3 separate regions of the Homo sapiens genome follow, and all the other regions are linked to region 3. Evidence: fine-mapped expression QTL. A gene starts in region 3. Each other region holds a variant in brackets. All regions are shown on one strand. Distances are between the middles of the regions. Region 1 has its middle 55 kb from the start of VXN. Region 2 overlaps LOC124901955 (a long non-coding RNA gene). Region 3 holds the start of MYBL1 (MYB proto-oncogene like 1).

Evidence for each region.
Region 1: its variant is fine-mapped to the expression of MYBL1 in whole blood (TOPMed, PIP 0.95).
Region 2: its variant is fine-mapped to the expression of MYBL1 in whole blood (INTERVAL, PIP 0.90).

What each region holds. Positions count from the first base shown.
Region 1 is chr8:66,545,259-66,550,959 of GRCh38, reverse strand. No RefSeq gene overlaps it. Among named protein-coding and RNA genes, the nearest start is that of VXN, 55 kb to the right of the region's middle. RefSeq lists an enhancer at 4,100-4,149. The variant A/G (reference allele first, on the strand shown) is at 3,795.
Region 2 is chr8:66,531,635-66,536,634 of GRCh38, reverse strand. All of the region lies in intron 1 of LOC124901955 (a long non-coding RNA gene), which reads left to right. Among named protein-coding and RNA genes, the nearest start is that of VXN, 41 kb to the right of the region's middle. The variant T/C (reference allele first, on the strand shown) is at 2,860.
Region 3 is chr8:66,611,209-66,616,208 of GRCh38, reverse strand. MYBL1 (MYB proto-oncogene like 1) reads left to right here and starts at 2,991. Exons shown (of 16, transcript NM_001080416.4): 1 at 2,991-3,390. The coding sequence starts at 3,371. LOC105375884 (a long non-coding RNA gene) reads right to left here and starts at 2,660. Exons shown (of 2, transcript XR_929015.3): 1 at 2,557-2,660; 2 at 351-2,164. RefSeq lists enhancers at 2,145-2,194, 2,205-2,284, 2,335-2,474 and a silencer at 2,705-3,224.

The DNA.
Region 1 (5,701 bases), 66 kb after region 3:
ATAGGAACATAGAGTGAATGGAATTCATTAGATCATTGCAATACCAAATATTGCCTGAATTCTAGAATTCAGTTTGAGATTTTTAAAAATCAATCTTTCAATCTGGGCAAATAATTAGAAATAAATGTTTTTCTTTGTTAAACAATAAATTGTATTGTATATATTTGAGGCTTAAAACATGATATTGGCTGGGCATGGTGGCTCATGCCTGTAATCCCAGCACTTTGGGAGGCTGAGGTGGCCAGATTGCTTGAGTCCAGGAGTTTGAGACTAGCCTGGGCAACATGGCGAAACCCTGTCTCTACTAAAAAAACAAAAAAATTAGCTGGGTGCCTGTAGTCCCAGCTACTCAGGAGGCTGAGGTAGGAGGATCACCTGAGGCCAGGCGGTTGAGACTACAGTGAGCTGAGATTGCGCCACACCACTGCTCTCCAGTGGGGGCTACAGGAGTGAGATCCTGTCTCAAAACAAAACAAAACAAAGCAAAACAAAACAAAACAAACCGTGATATTAAAGGATATGTATAGATAGTAAAATTGATACTATAGTAAAGCAAATTAACATATACATTATCTCACATAGTTCCTTTTTTGTGTGTGACAAGAGCAGCTAAAAATCTTATTTAACAAAAATTCCCAATACAGTACAATTTTATTAACTTTGGTCCTCACATTGTACTTGCTACATCTCCCTATTTTCTCTCCCTTCCCCTCCTCACTTGTCCCTGTTCTCTATCTTTGTGTATTTGGGTTTTTTTTTTTTTTAAGATTCCACATGTAAGTAAGATCATGCAGTATTTTTTCTTTCTGTGTCTGGCTTATTTCACTTAGCAAGGTGTCATCCAGGTCCTTTCCATCCATGTTGTGGGAAATGGCAGGATCTCTCTCTCTCTCTCTTTTTTAAAGATGGAGTTTTGCTGGAGTGCAGTGGTGTGATCATAGCTCACTGCAGCCTCAAACTCCTGGGCTCAAGTGATGTTTGAACTTTAGCCTCCTGAGTAGCTGGGACTACAGTCATGCACCACCACACTCAGCTAATTTTTTTTTTTTTTTGGAAAGATGGGGATCTCGCTATGTTGCCCAGGCTGGTCTCAAACTCCTGGCTTAAAGTGTCTTCTTACCTTGGCCTCCCAAAGCGCTGGAATTATAGGCATGTGTCACCATGCCCATCCAGGATCTCCTTTCTGTAGCTGAGTACAAACAAGCATTTCAAAAATTTCGTTGTCTATATGAAAGGCAATTATATTTTGGGTGAAGCTATACTTTTATTTGAGAAAAGTTGGTGGGCATAATAAGTTTTTAAGTAAAACAAAAGTTAATTAACTTATAGAATGGTCATTCATTCTGAGAACACATTCTTTCTATTTTTGGGGTGTCTGCATAATAATCTTTCTTTCTGAAACAATGAGGATAGTCCTAATTTGGCAATATATGCCAAACCCCAAACCTATTCTCCAAACCCCTAATATTTTTGAAATCTTACAGGCACATGAAATCCAGAATTTGGGGAACCACTCCTGGGGTTCTTGAATAAGAAACCCCCATCCCTAGAAAGATCTCTTTCACTCTCTTCCAGCATTTCCTTGACTGTTCATGTTCTTGAATATGTTCGGTGGCCAGTGAACTATGACACAAAGCTTGGTGGGAAGTAAGATTTAGCTCTCATTGCCATTGTTTTGTTGGCATGTTGATATCAGAAACTCTAGTCACAGTAGTTGACGGGAGTAGTTGATTTTATATTAAATGGATAAGAGCATGGTTAATGGTACATTTCAGTTAAACGGGGCATTGCAGCCATGATGGGGTCTCTTTGGGTTCTGTGATGAAAGACAGTGAATTAGCAGTTTCAAGCCTGGAATCCTCACACAGAATGTCAAGCCGTGGTAAAGAACAAAGGGGCCCATGGGAAAACAAGCCACTGCATTCTTAGCAGCTGCCTGGATTTTCTTCTCTTATTATAACCCAGTGGCAATGGTTTTAAATGACAACACAGGATATCTATTTAGTAATAACCACAAAAAGAAAGTAGCTGAGGAGGTAGAATGCTTGGTTGGGTGATAGTGATGAGAGGAACCCTGGAGGCAGAATGTCTGTGGGCCATGTAATTAAATCATCAGATGTCAGCTATCGACTTTCTCCCACATTGTAAGGACAGAGCTATCTTCTCACTTATGGTTATTTCTCCTCATTTTTGTGAAAACATAAAATGCAGTGTGTTCTGGAAAAAAAATACTAAAGTACTATTACAGTGGATAGCTAGTCAGACACGAGCAGGGCAGGAAAGGCCCCCCGCCAACCCTGTGTTCACCAGAAATGTCAGGCAACCATGAGGTGATGGTCAGGTGGTTATTAAACTGTCTCTCTAAAATAATAATTGTGGCCAGGGGCAGTGGCTCACTCCTGTAATCCCAGCATTTTGAGAGGCAGAGGTGGGAGGATCACTGAGACCAGCCTGGGCAATATAGTGAGACCTCGTCTCTATAAAAAAAAATTGGTCACAACCAGCACCAGGCAAAGGCAGTCTCCCAATAGATAGAAACACCTGAAACTGGTGATTAGCAGCTTCCCAATAAGATCTTAGGAGTTGGGTGAGCAGGCTCCAGCATGAGCACTAAGAGGCAAAATGACGGAGTTTAAGTGCTATATGACCTTCCTCCAGGAACACTTGACTGGTAAGGCAAAAATGCTTCAAGTGAGCATGTACAACACCAGTAAACACTGCTCCTGGGGCTCCTCTCAACTGCTGGGAGTCCACTGAGCTGTGGACAGCCCACCCCAGGGGAAGAATCAGGGGAGAAGAGAGCAAAACCCCAGAAACATGCCAATGTATAAGACCCCAAGTCAAAGGTCAAACAGGGCACTTGAATCTGTGAAGTCACCACTTGGCCCTCTTCCAAGTGTACTTTACTTTCTTTCCTTCCTACTCCAAAATTTCTTTAAAAAACTTTCACTCCTGCTCTAAAACTTGCCTGGGTCTGTCACTCTGCCTTATGCCCCTCGGTTGAATTCTTCTGAGGAGGCAAGAATTGAGGTTGCTGCAGACCCCTATGGATTTGAGGCTGCTAACAGTACTATTATGCTCAAGAATATGGTCATTATTTTATAATCCCCACTTATTTTCCTAAGGCTTGAGAGGAAGTCATTTCCTGAGACAGATATAAGTTATTACAGCATTGAATTGTTGAGAAAAAGAAAGAGAGTTAGAGAATATATGTTTGGGGTTTTGTACATTAAATAACTCATATAATAGCTCAAGATATGCATGACTTCCATTATATAAATAAAAATAATCCAATTACTGTGGTGTTGGTTACACAACTCTGTGAGTTTATAAAATTTTTTTATTTTTTTTGAGGCAGGGTCTCACTCTGTCTCCCAGGCTGGAGTGCAGTGGCACAATCACAGCTCGTTGCAGCCTTGACCTCCTGAGCTCAAGTGATCCTCCTGCCTCAGCCTCCCGAGCAGCTGGGACTATAGGTCTATACCACCATGCCTAGCTAATTTTTGTATATTTTTTTATAGCAGTGAGGTTTTGCCATGTCATCCAGGCTGGTCTTGAACTCCTGGGCTCAAGCAATTCACTGGCCTCCTAAAATGCTGGAATTATAGGCATGAGCCAGCATGCCCAGCCTATCAAAAATTATTGAATTGAATACTCGAAATGAGTGAATTTAATGGTATGTAAATTATGCCTCAATAAAGCTGTTAAAAATTAATTGGTTTGTTTGGCATGTATAACCAATAAAATGTAACAAAAGAAGATAGCAGCAAAACATTTTTAAAAAGCCATAACTT[A/G]GTTCACATCCATGTGTAATATTGTAGGCTATAGAGGGATGGTCAAAAGTGAGAATCTGATATTGAATCACATGAGAAATATGAAAAAATTTGCATTTTTAGTTTGAAGAGTGCTCTGAAAGCTTTGACCCGTGTAACCACCCCAGTTCTGTATTCAGTGTTCAGCAATGACTCCAACAGGTTCTGAGGTACTAACAGGAACCATGGACAAGAAAGAGTTTATAGGGGAGGGTGACTCAGAGGGTTTTTGTTGACTTAAGAGTAGCTGTGGCCAGTAATCTCAGCACTTCAGGAGGCTTAGGCAGGAGGATTGCTTGAACGCAGGAGTTTGAGACCAGCCTGGGCAAAAATGTGAGACCCTTTCTCTACAGAAATGTTTAAAAATCAGCCAGGTGTGGTGGTGCACACCTGTAGTCCCAGCTACTTGGGAGGCTGAGGTGGGAGGATTGCTTGAACCCAGGAGGTTGAGGCTGCTGTGAGCCATGATTGCACCACTGCACTCCAGCCTGGGTGATGGAGTAAGAACCTGTCTTAGAAAAAAAAAAAAAAAAAAAGAGAAAGAGCAGCTGTAACTGGAATGGTCATATAATTTACTATGTAAACTAAGGACAGTTTGGAACTTGAAATGTGATGCTATCCATAATCATACAGGAACAATAAACATAAGCAAGTCATATGCAAAGTCACTCTACCTCTAATCTTGTGTTTGATAATATAACAAATATTTGGCCCCAGAGAGTGGCTCATGCCTGTAGTCTCAGCACTTTGAGAGACTGAGGAAGGAAGGTCACTTGAGTCCAGGAGTTCAAGGCCAGACTGGGCAACAAGTGAGACTCTGTCTCTACAAAAAATAGAATAAATTACTAGGTGTGGTGGTGTGCACCTGTAGTCCCAGCTACTTAGCTGAGGTGGGAGGATCACTTGAGCCCAAGAGGTTGAGGCTGCAGTAAGCCACAACAACAAGAGGTTGAGGTGTGCAATAGGCACACCACTGCACTCTAGCCTAGGCTACAAAGCAAGACTTTGTCTCAAAAAAAAAAAAATTCTATGTAACTCTTGATTGGTTTTATAGGTAGGATTTGGAATTGGAAGGCTTATATAGAAGACTTTCGGGGCTTTGATTTCCTCAATTCTAAAACAGAGAATCTTATTCCTTTTCCCTTCCTTCCTTCCTTCCTTCCTTCCTTCCTTCCTTCCTTCCTTCCTTCCTTCCTTCCCTCCCTCCCTCCCTCCCTCCCTCCCTCCCTCTTTCCTTCCCTCCTTCCTTCCTTCCTTCCATCCTTTCCTCCCTCCCTCCTTCCTTCCCTCCCTCCCTCCTTCCTTCCCTCCCTCCCTTCCTCCCTCCCTCCTTCCTTCCTTTCCTCCTTCCTTCCTTCCTTCCCTCCTCCCTTCCTTCCTTCCTTCCTTCCCTCCTTCCTTCCTTCCCTCCCTCCCTCCTTCCCTCCATCCCTCCTCTCCTTCCTTCCCTCCCTCCCCTCCTTCCTCCAACATGTATTTATTGAGCTCCTACTATATATTTTTAAAGTTCTGTGCTAGGGATTCAGGAGATAGAAATAATCATTTCTAGCCCCAGTAACTCCTAGTCTACTTTCAGAAATGGAGTCACTGGCTGAGTGCAGTGGCTCACAACTGTAATCCTAGCACTTTGAGAGGCGAGGCAGGCGGCTCACATGAGGCCAAGAGTTTGAGACCAGCCTGGCCAACATGGGGAAACCCTGTCTCTACTAAAAATACAAAAATCAGCCAGGTGTGATGGCGTGCACCTGTAGTCCCAGCTACTTGGGTGGCTAAGGCAAGAGAATTGTTTGAACCAGGGAGGTGGAGGTTGCAGTGAGCTGAGATCTCACCATTGCACTTCAGTCCAGGTGACAGAGCAAGACCTTGTTAAAAAAAAAAAAAAAAGGAAG
Region 2 (5,000 bases), 80 kb after region 3:
TCTGTCATCTGTGGTTTTGTTTATGCTCTTTGCTTTGCCTAAAACACCTTTTCTTTGTCTAGCTAGTGACCTCTTACTCCTGGCCCTGCCCAAGCCCAGCTCCCCTGGGTCCTTCTGATGCCCCAGGCAGAACTCATCAGTTCTCCTCCCCAGCCCTGCCTCTTTGCTCCTCTTGGGTTTCTGCACTGATCACATTGCATCATCACGGGAGCTCAATCCGTCTGCCCACCTGCCTTCTCCTTTGTGTCTTCGGCATTCAGTGAGCGCTCAACTTATGGTTGTTGAAGAAATGAAGTCAAGAGGAGAGCACTTTAACTGACTGCTGTTTATTATGCTTCTTCCTTTCTCCTGGCAATCAGGAGTTCCCATCGTTCCAGTACCTACTGTGTGCCAATGTCATTACCTCCCTATCTTATTTTGTGCCTCACAATTTCTCTGTGCAGTAGGTGTTATCTTCATTTTACACAAAGACACCGAGAGTTAGGGAAGTTAAAGCACTTGCCCCAGAGGTTTCTGAAATGTTTGACTGCAGACTTGGGGCCCAGAAATCAACCATCCTCTAGAAGTTGGTGCTCTGGAAGCCCAAGTTCCGTCAAGTGCTCACTGATTGCCTGTGGCTTCTTCATAAGGGCCGGGAGCTGTCAGTGGCCTCTGAGTCACTCATTCCTGAAACAAGACTTCAGATGTTTAATGGAATTTCCCCTTCCTTTCCTGTTGCTGGCATATTCATGACTCAAGTGGAGGGCACAGTTAGTAGGGAGCTTGCTGACTTGATAGGTACAGCATTGAGGGTGGGGCAATGTTTCTAAACCACAAGCAGCCAAATTATTTCCCCTTTCAAGAGAGGTTTTGCTGGCCATGCTCATGTAGTCATCTGGTGCAAACATTTTCAAAAGGTTTTTTTTTTTTTTCTTCTTTTTCTGTTAATTTTAAATACAAGTGATTTCACGCTTTCTTGTTTAGAGTTTCAGATAGGTTGCAGCTGTAGGGTATTGGACCGATATGGGATCAAAGCAGACAGAAACACACTTAGTGTCTGTGTGACCTTGAGCAAGTTATTGAACCTCTCTAAGCCTCCAATTTCTCATTTAGAAAATGAGGTTGCTGGGAGGACTACATGAGAATGTGTATTTGTGAAAACCGGGGATGAGCCGATACCAGCCACTCACAAATGTAAGGTCCCCCATCTTCTAGTTTTCCCTAATATGTATCTCTCCTTGCAATCCTGCTCAAGCATTGACTGCTTCAGCAATTCCAGAAACAGGCAATATATAAATTACAAGTAAATATTCAATGATGTGTCTCACTATTTAAATAAGGCTGCCCTTTAGGATTCAGCTTCTTCTCCAGAAAAACATGGGCCATTGTGAAATGAAGTGAAAGTGTGAAATGAAGTGAAAGTGAAAGGAAGTCAAGTGAAATTCACTCACTCACTGACAATTTAGGGCCAATTGGACTGATAGCATCTGAATTCCCTGTGTTTTTTTTTTTTTTCCTCTACCCTAACCTATGGTAATCTGAGATAGGGACCCAGGAATTTGTATTTCTACAAACTCATCAGGTGATTCTTGTAAAGATTAAGGCTTTAGGGTGACTCAATTGCTTTTCCTAAACTCACTAACAAAAGGTGCTATAGGCTGGGCATGATGGCTCACATCTGTAATCCCAACACTTTGGGGGGCTGAGGTGGGAGGATTGCTTGAGCCCAGGAGTTTGAGAACAGCTTAGGCAACGTGGTGAGACCTGGCCTCAACAACAACAACAACAACAACACAAAATTAGCCGATTGTGATGGTTTGTGGCTGTATTTCAAGTTACTTGGGAGGCTGAGTTGAAAGTATTCCTTGAGCCCGAGAGTTCAGGGCTGCAGTGAGCTATGATTGCAACACTGCACTCCAGCCTGGGCAACAGAGCAAAACCCAGTCACACACACACACCCACACACACATGCGCGCGCGCGTGCTATTCCAGAGAGCCAATCTCCTTGCTCTGGTCATGTCACAGCCCTTTCTTTAGGAGACCCCAGACCCACATTTGGCACTTGTCATACCCCTTGCAGGTTTCTGGAGACAAACCTTTCAGTCCTGAAGGGAGTTAACTGACATGTGTTTTGATGGGAAGATCATGGAGCTGTAGAACTGATCTCTAATCACCATGGCTGCCTACAGCACCAGGGTTTTAAAGCACAGTATATAAGTAAAAGCAAGAAAAAGATTGAGTTTGATAATTCTGGTATTGATATCTGGTGTTGATTTTGATAATTCAGAAATTCTGATAGTCTCTAGAGGGAATGCATAATGAGTAAATCTGCTCTGTTGAGGTGAGCATTTAATCCTGTGTGTGTGTAAAATACGACACATATTATGGCGCCACAGTATAACTGAATGTTTGATCCCCTCTGCTGCACGCTGGCTTCCCCCTGTGAAAGGTCCTTCCCCCTGTGCATGCCTCTGTTCCCTCTCCTTGGAGTGACAGGTGGGCTAGCATCTCATTAAGTCTGGGAGGGCACCTGGCATTTTGACATTATCATTTTGGCATAAGCATATTTGATACAGCCTTTTAAAAGAAGCCTAAAAAAGTCATTAAAAAACCCCACACAACACTGATTTTTTCAACTGACTTTATTATCAATAAAGGAAGAGCTTCATCCATCCCAAGCTCCATTTGGTCGCTGAACCTCCCCTCCATGCCAGTGCCCTGGATGCCTCTGAGACAGGGATCGGGGAAGGCGGGGACCAAGGCTGTGTCAGGTCCCCGGGGCAGGCAGTCGCTGATGGAAAACCACGAATAACAACACCATGATTGTGTTTACCACATGCGGGCCCTCAGGAAGTGCATCATTATGCTTGGTGAGGGTTG[T/C]TTCTTTTCTGAGAATCTGCTTGAGTCCTGAGAATTCTACATCTCACGTCCTCTGATTTTGCTCTTTGAGTTGCAACACCCATATTTTATGACAGATTTGCAAATCTGTCTATTTTTTCTAAGTTTCTTGAATATGTCAGTGGAATTATTTTTCAGACGCTAGAGGGGGCAGGGGGTAGGAGGCGAGGATACTGGAGACAATGTGATCCTTTTTCCTTAGCAACAGGCTGCCCAGAGAATGCTCAATTACATTTCTAACAGTTTTCTCAACATATTTTGTATTGGCATTAGTTAATAGGTTACATTCCTTTATGATGACGGTTTGGAGGAGGGGCATCCCCTGAAAAGCTAACCTAGTTTGAATGGACTTTTCAAAAATATTCTTAAGATTAAAACAATTTTTTTAAATAAGTAAAAATGCACATGGTTAAAACAAAAATCAAAGGCAAAACTATGGAGATGATAAAAAGACCAGTTGTTACCAGGGGTCCAGTGGAGAGAGAGAGGAAGGGAGAGATGAACAGGAAGAGAGAGCACAGAGGGTGTTTATGGCAGTGAAACTAGTCTGTCTGATCCTGAAATGGCAGATACATGTCATTACACATTTGTCGAAACCCATAGAATGTACAACATCAAAGGTGACATAATGTACATTATGGACTTTGTTTGTTTGTTTGTTTTTTGAGACAGGACCTTGCTCTGTTCCCCAGGATGGAGTGTAGTGGTGCTATCATGGCTCACTGCAGCCTCGACCTCTTGGGCTCAAGTGATCCCCCTACCTCAGCCTCCCCAGTAGCTGGGGCTACAGGCTTGCGCCACCACACCTGGCTAATTTTTTTGGTAATTTTTGGTAATTTTTGTTAAATGTACATGTTGCCCAGGCTGTCCTCAAATCCCAGTGCCTGCTTTGGCCTTCCAAAGTGTTGGGATTACAGGGGTGAGGGACCTGGCCTAGAGGACTTTAGTTATAATGTATCAATATTGGCTCATCAATTGTAACACATGTACTACACTAATATGCAAGATATTAATAATAGGGTGTGGAGGGGTGAGGGAGTATGTGAGAGCTCTGTGTTCTGCCCATTTTTTCTGTAAATCTAAAACTGCTCACAAATAAATTTTAAAACAAGATTAAAAATCAGATGCATTTGATACAAAAAATATTCAGAGTTCAAAAGGGTGTATCTTGAGCAATACTGTTCTCACTATACCTGTTCCCAAGTCCCTAAGATCCCACGCTAGAAGCAATGAATACTGCCAGTTTAGAAAATATCCGTCTGGGCCGGCCTGTTATCCCAGCATTTGGGAGGCCAAGAGGGGGTGGATCACCTGAGGTCAGGAGTTCGAGACCAGCCTGGCCAACATGGTGAAACCCCGTCTCTACTAGAAGTACAAAAATTAGCCAGGCGTGGTGGCACATGCCTGTAATCCCAGGGAGGCTGAGGCAGGAGAATTGCTTAAACCTGGGATGCGGAGGTTGCAGTGAGCCGAGATTGCGCCATTGCAGTCTGGGTGACAAGAGTAAAACTCTTGTCAAACTCTTGTCAAAAAAAAAAAAAAAAAGAAAATATCCATCTAGGGAGTTTCTCTAAGTACACATCAGCGTGATAGCCTACCTTTTTTTCACACGAATGTTGCATGTTATTTATATATTTCATTAAGAATAAATAAATTAGATGACTAATATGGAACCAAAAGCAATAGAAGGAGCAAAAATTCCCTATAAACCATGGTGGCCAGAGGCAGAGCAAGCATCAGGGATGCTTACAGGGTTCTGTGATACCAGACAGAAGGAGGCTCCATTTCATGGAGCAGTTTCCATGAGGCTCTGTCAAAATAGCTGTCCTGTCAAAATAACTGCACCACAAACACTGTAAACAGCCTGCTCCGTCTCTGATTAGAGAGTCGTATGGGGATTGTATGAAACCTGTGGGGTCTAATGAGGGCTGTTCTCTTTAAAACCGTGGCAAGCAGTCCATTCATTCCGGTGACGTCATCTCCCAAATGTCTTTGGAACCTCTCCTTAGTAATTGCCCTTCAGAGTCTGCAGAACAATTTGTTTTCTTGCAGTTTTTTAAATAGCAAAGCCCTTTTAGACCCTAAGAGCGCAAGCCCTGAGACACCTGGTAGATCTGCTTGTG
Region 3 (5,000 bases):
GAGGCGGGAGGATCACCTGAGGTCAGGAGTTCCAGACCAGGCTGGTCAACATGGTGAGACCCCATCTCTACTAAAAATACAAAAAATTAGCCTGGGGTGGCAGGATAATTTCTTGAACCCGGGAGGTAGAGGTTGCAGTGAGCCAAGATCATGCCACTGGACTCCAGCCTGGGTGACAGAGTGAGACTCTGTCTCAAAAAACAAAAACCACAAAAATTAGCCGGGCATGGTGACACATGCCTGTAATCCCAGCTGCTTGGGAGGCTGAGGCACAAGAATTGCTTGAACATGGGAGGTGGAGGTTGCAGTGAGTGGTGATCGCGCCAATGCACTCCAGCCTGGGTGACAGAGTGACTGTCTAAAAAAAAAAAAAAAAAAAAAAAAAAAGACCTACTATTTGACAGCACAAGTTGACTAGAGTCAATAACTTGATTGTAGATTTTAAAATAACTAAAATTTATAATAACTAAAAGTAACACAAAGGATAAATACTCAAGGGGATGGATACCCCATCTCCATGATGTGATTATTTCACATTGCATGCCTGTATCAAAACATCTCATGTACCCCACAAATATATACACCTACTATGTACCCACAAAAATTAAAAAACAAACAAAACAAAGCCACTATAAATGTTTTGCAAAATGGCTGAATTCTGCATGCCTAACAGCAATGTATGCAAGTTGTACTTGCTCAGCATTTTCATCTTCACCAACATTTGTATAGTCAGTCATTTTCCCCGCTCATTCTAACAGAAGTGTAGTCTAGTATCTCATTGTGGTTTAATTTGCATTTCTCTAATGACTAATGAGGTGGAACATCATTTAATATGCCTGTCGTGTGTGTGTGTGTGTGTGTGTGTGTGTGTGTGTGTGTGTATGTATATATATATCTCGTTTGGTGAAATCTGTTTAAATCTTTTGCCCATTTTTTAAATGCTTTTTTTCTCACTGAGTTTTGAGAGTTCTTTATATACTCTGAATAAAATCTCTAAACGTTTGCTTAAAAAAAAACTCATCTTAGTTTAGAATACATCTGAGTATGTGTATTCAAATGACTGTGAACCACTTTAATTCCACACTTTGCCCTGAGTTTTATAACTGATTTCAGTAATTTCACAATGTTATCTTTCTGGGAATTGCTTTTCTCTATATGTAAAAATGAGGGAAATTTGTTTTACTGTCAAAATCTAAAACATTTGTCTTCAAGCTCTAAAAAAGGTATTCTGTATAAAACTGAATACAGCCTAAAATATAGCAGAAGCTCTGCTTCCTGTTAGATATAAATAAGTGAAGTAATGTACGACCCAGGGGTAAATAAGAAAACAGTGAAACAGTGATTCCAAATGACATTGGGAACATAATGAAATTTGGGAACTCATTTCTAAATTATTTTTTATTTTTTTATTTTTACTGAACCAGCAACCCAGTAAGGAATGATCTGGAAGAAACGCTTGGCCAGGTGTTGTGGCGCGCGCCTGTAGTCCCAGCTACTTTGGAGGCTGAGGCAAGAGGATCGCTGTTCGAGGCTACTGTAAGCTATGATTGTGCCACTGCACTCCAGCATGGGGAATAGAGTGAGACCTAGTCTCAAAAAAAAAACAACAAAAAAAAAAACAGGAGAGAAAAAGAAAAGCTGTTTTATCTTCCCTTACCTTCCCAGAATCTATACCTTGAAAAAAGGAACTGTTAAAAAAAAAAAAGCCAGTGTGTTTAGGTTTTGACAGCAGTGCATGCAAGCTTCTCTCTTAATTCAGCTCCTCTTAATTCACTCTGCACCTGCATCTGATTTGCAAAAGATGAAGCGTAAAATTTCAAAATAGCAAGTGTTTGTTACAGTGTTAACATGTGGCTCAGTGCTCTATGCAATAGACCATGTTGCCTTGCAAATTTTCCTTAGCCAAGTGTAATTGTTACTGTAGCAAATCTACTTTAATGCTACTTGAAATGAACAGTTCGTAGTTATTAGACTGGAACCTCAAGTAGCTGCAACCGCTAGAAACTCCTCCGGTGGTTCCCCCCTCCCTGGTCTCTCCAGAGGGAAGAAGGTCACCTTCTACACTTAACTACCATGCTCATTCATCTGGACGAAATGCCCAGTCCACTGTCTTCTTCACGCGTTATTCTCCAGGACAGGGCTCCTCCGCCGCGCACGTTATTTCCTGTAGAGCGGGCACGAAATTAAGCACCTTGAAGACCAGCGGTAGACACAGATTATCTCCGGTTCCAAGCACGTCTCCCGCTAGGAACTTTTTTCACTTGTCACTCTTCTGCTGCTTTTTGAGGAAAACAGGTGATATTTGGTTTCCTGCCAGAGTCTTCGTCACTCTCGTAACTATGATGTCTGGGTAAAAATAGCTCACATTTTTGCTTAAAAAATAACGGCCGCGCAAATTTATGGTTAGATTTGTCTCAAGTCTGAAGACCGCGCATCCTAACTAGTGAGGCGGAAGACACCTAAGGAGCCAGGAGCTGTCGCCGAGGCGAGGCTGCGGAGACGTTCCCTTGGTGGGCCGCGGGACCACCCACCCCGCCAGAAACTCGGTTCGCTCACCCTAAGAATTTTGGGGCAACTGGACTTCTCCACCGCCCGCTTCCGGACCCGCTCCGGCGCCGCTTCCGGACCCACTCCTCGGCGAGCGCAGGAACTCGCTCTCCCAGCAGGCCCCGCGCGGTGCGCCTCTCGGCGCGTTCCGGGTCCTATGACAGCTCGGCTCGCATGCGCCACCTACGGCCCCACCCGCGGCCCCACCCCCTGGCTCCCGGCTCCTTCCCCGACTCCCGCGAGTTCCAGTCCCAGCTTCCAGCTCCCCAGCCCCGCCCTCAGCCGCGCGCGCTCTCCCCTCCCCGCCCTCGCTTCTTCGCGTGCGGCCCCCACAGCCAATGAGGTTCAGGGCCGCGTGCGCAGATTCAAACGGCGGCTCTTGAGGGAGGCTGGGCGCGAGATTCGGCGGTGCGGACAAAACCCTGCAGGAGACTGCGAGCCCTGCAGAACTGCTAGCTGCGGGGGAGAGGGCAGGGGTCGGGCGCCTGTGGCGGAGCCGGGCTGGGGCCAGGGCAGGGAGGCTGACAAGCGGCGGGAGAAGCCGGCGGAGGGCGGGATCGCGCCTCCTGACATGTTGGGGGTATCCCTGGCCGGGCCGGGCCGGGGCTAAGAGCGGCGCTGCGGGCCGGGGTCGGGGTCGGGTCGCGGTCCGCCCCCGCTGTCCCTCCGTCCTGCCCTGTCGAGGACGTGCGTTCCGCACTCGGCCGCCTCCAGAGGGAGCGAGGGAAGCGGCTAGAGGATCGGGGAGAAGGAGCATTCGCCGGAGGCTGGAGGAGGCTGACCCGCGTCCCCGCCCAGCCTGCTCCTATGCGGTACTTGAAGGATGGCGAAGAGGTCGCGCAGGTGGGTGGCACCCCTTTCGCCCAGGCCTGTCGGCGCCGTCTCGGCTCAGATTCTCTTTCCTATCCCGCTGCCCCCTCCCGCCATAAGGCCCTCCCTGGCGAGGGCAGAGGTTTTTCTTCCCGCGTCCCCGCGGCCGCTTGGCCTCGATGACCGGAGGGCAGCTGCGACGTGTGGAGAGTTGGGGACCAGGGTGTTTGAGGCGCGGGACGTAAGAGATGCCCAGGTTTCTCGGTGACTCTCCCCGTAATGCGCGTCCAGATTTCTGACCTCATGCTGCCACTTCTTCGAGGCAGGTTTCTTGCCAGGTAAGTCGAGCGCTTTTAGGGAGTCCGCTACGCAGAGAAAACTGACTGTGTCCTGCCGGGAGGACTTGAAAATGGTGTTCGGGCGACTCTTTTCTGAATGACGGTACAGTCAAAATAGGAACTCCGCGGTGAACCTGGGCGGCCACCCCTCTGCCAACTTGGCTATCTTGAAACGTTGTGGAAAATCCTCTGGGGAATAGCTGAGAGGACTTTTTTGATGTTTTCTGTAATTCCTATACCCATATGCTCAGCTTTATGTATATATGTATATTTTAATATCCTCTCTTGGGACCATGTCACATAGTAACAACTAGTAGTAACAACTAGTAGCTTGATCTTGAAATAAAACAATGTGTTTGATTCACTTAATATTTTGAGTGTCTGTGTTTGGCTCTGACCGTACCTAAGTGTTCCACAGAGGTAAGGCACTTTTTTCCACCTTTGCCTGGAAAATGTGCTAGGATGAATTTATGCATCTAATTTTCGTTTACATGCCATTACAGCAGCTACTCATAAATTATGTGGAGTAATTGCTTAGATAACAAAAATATAGGATGTCTTCCGATTTTCAGCATTATCAAATAAACCTGAAAAGATGTTTGGCAGGATTTCCAAATATTTATTTATCTAGATCCACAGCCCCAAAATCTTAACTAGAGATGTATTTCCTAAGTTGAAATTTAGTAATGGGGGTCATTCATTGCAGAGTTCTGCTAAAAATTGGCAGTAACTATACATAATTGTTTTTTCCTTAGTTTTCTGTTAAGCATCTGCTGTGTGCAGGATGCTTCTGCAGAAATCCTTAAGTCTCTGTAAGCTTATTAGTTTTGAAGTAAGTTATAGGACAAACTCTTGAGATGAAATAAATGTGTACACAGACCCCTCTAAAACTGTTTTCAGCCTTTGCACTATTGACATCTTGGACCAGATAATTCTTTGTAATGGGGAGATGTTTAGCAGCATCGCTGGCTTCTACCCAGTAGAGATAGTAACACTCCACTTCCCTCAGTCATGACAGTAAAAATGTCTCCAGACATTGCCAAATATCTTTTGGGGGACAAAATCACCCAGGAAAGAACCACCCTTCTAGAACTTCAAGGACCCAATTAACATCAATCTTCAGAAAAGATAGATATTTAAAGCTCTTGTAATTATGATTGCCGAAGTACTGGTTTAGGCTTTTTGAATTTTTAAATATAAAAAAATTTAAAAATAAGATGACAATTGAATATGTTAACTCAATAACAAGTTTATTAATGTGTGATATTATCTACTTATCAGTATTGATGTTAATCTTATTTGAAA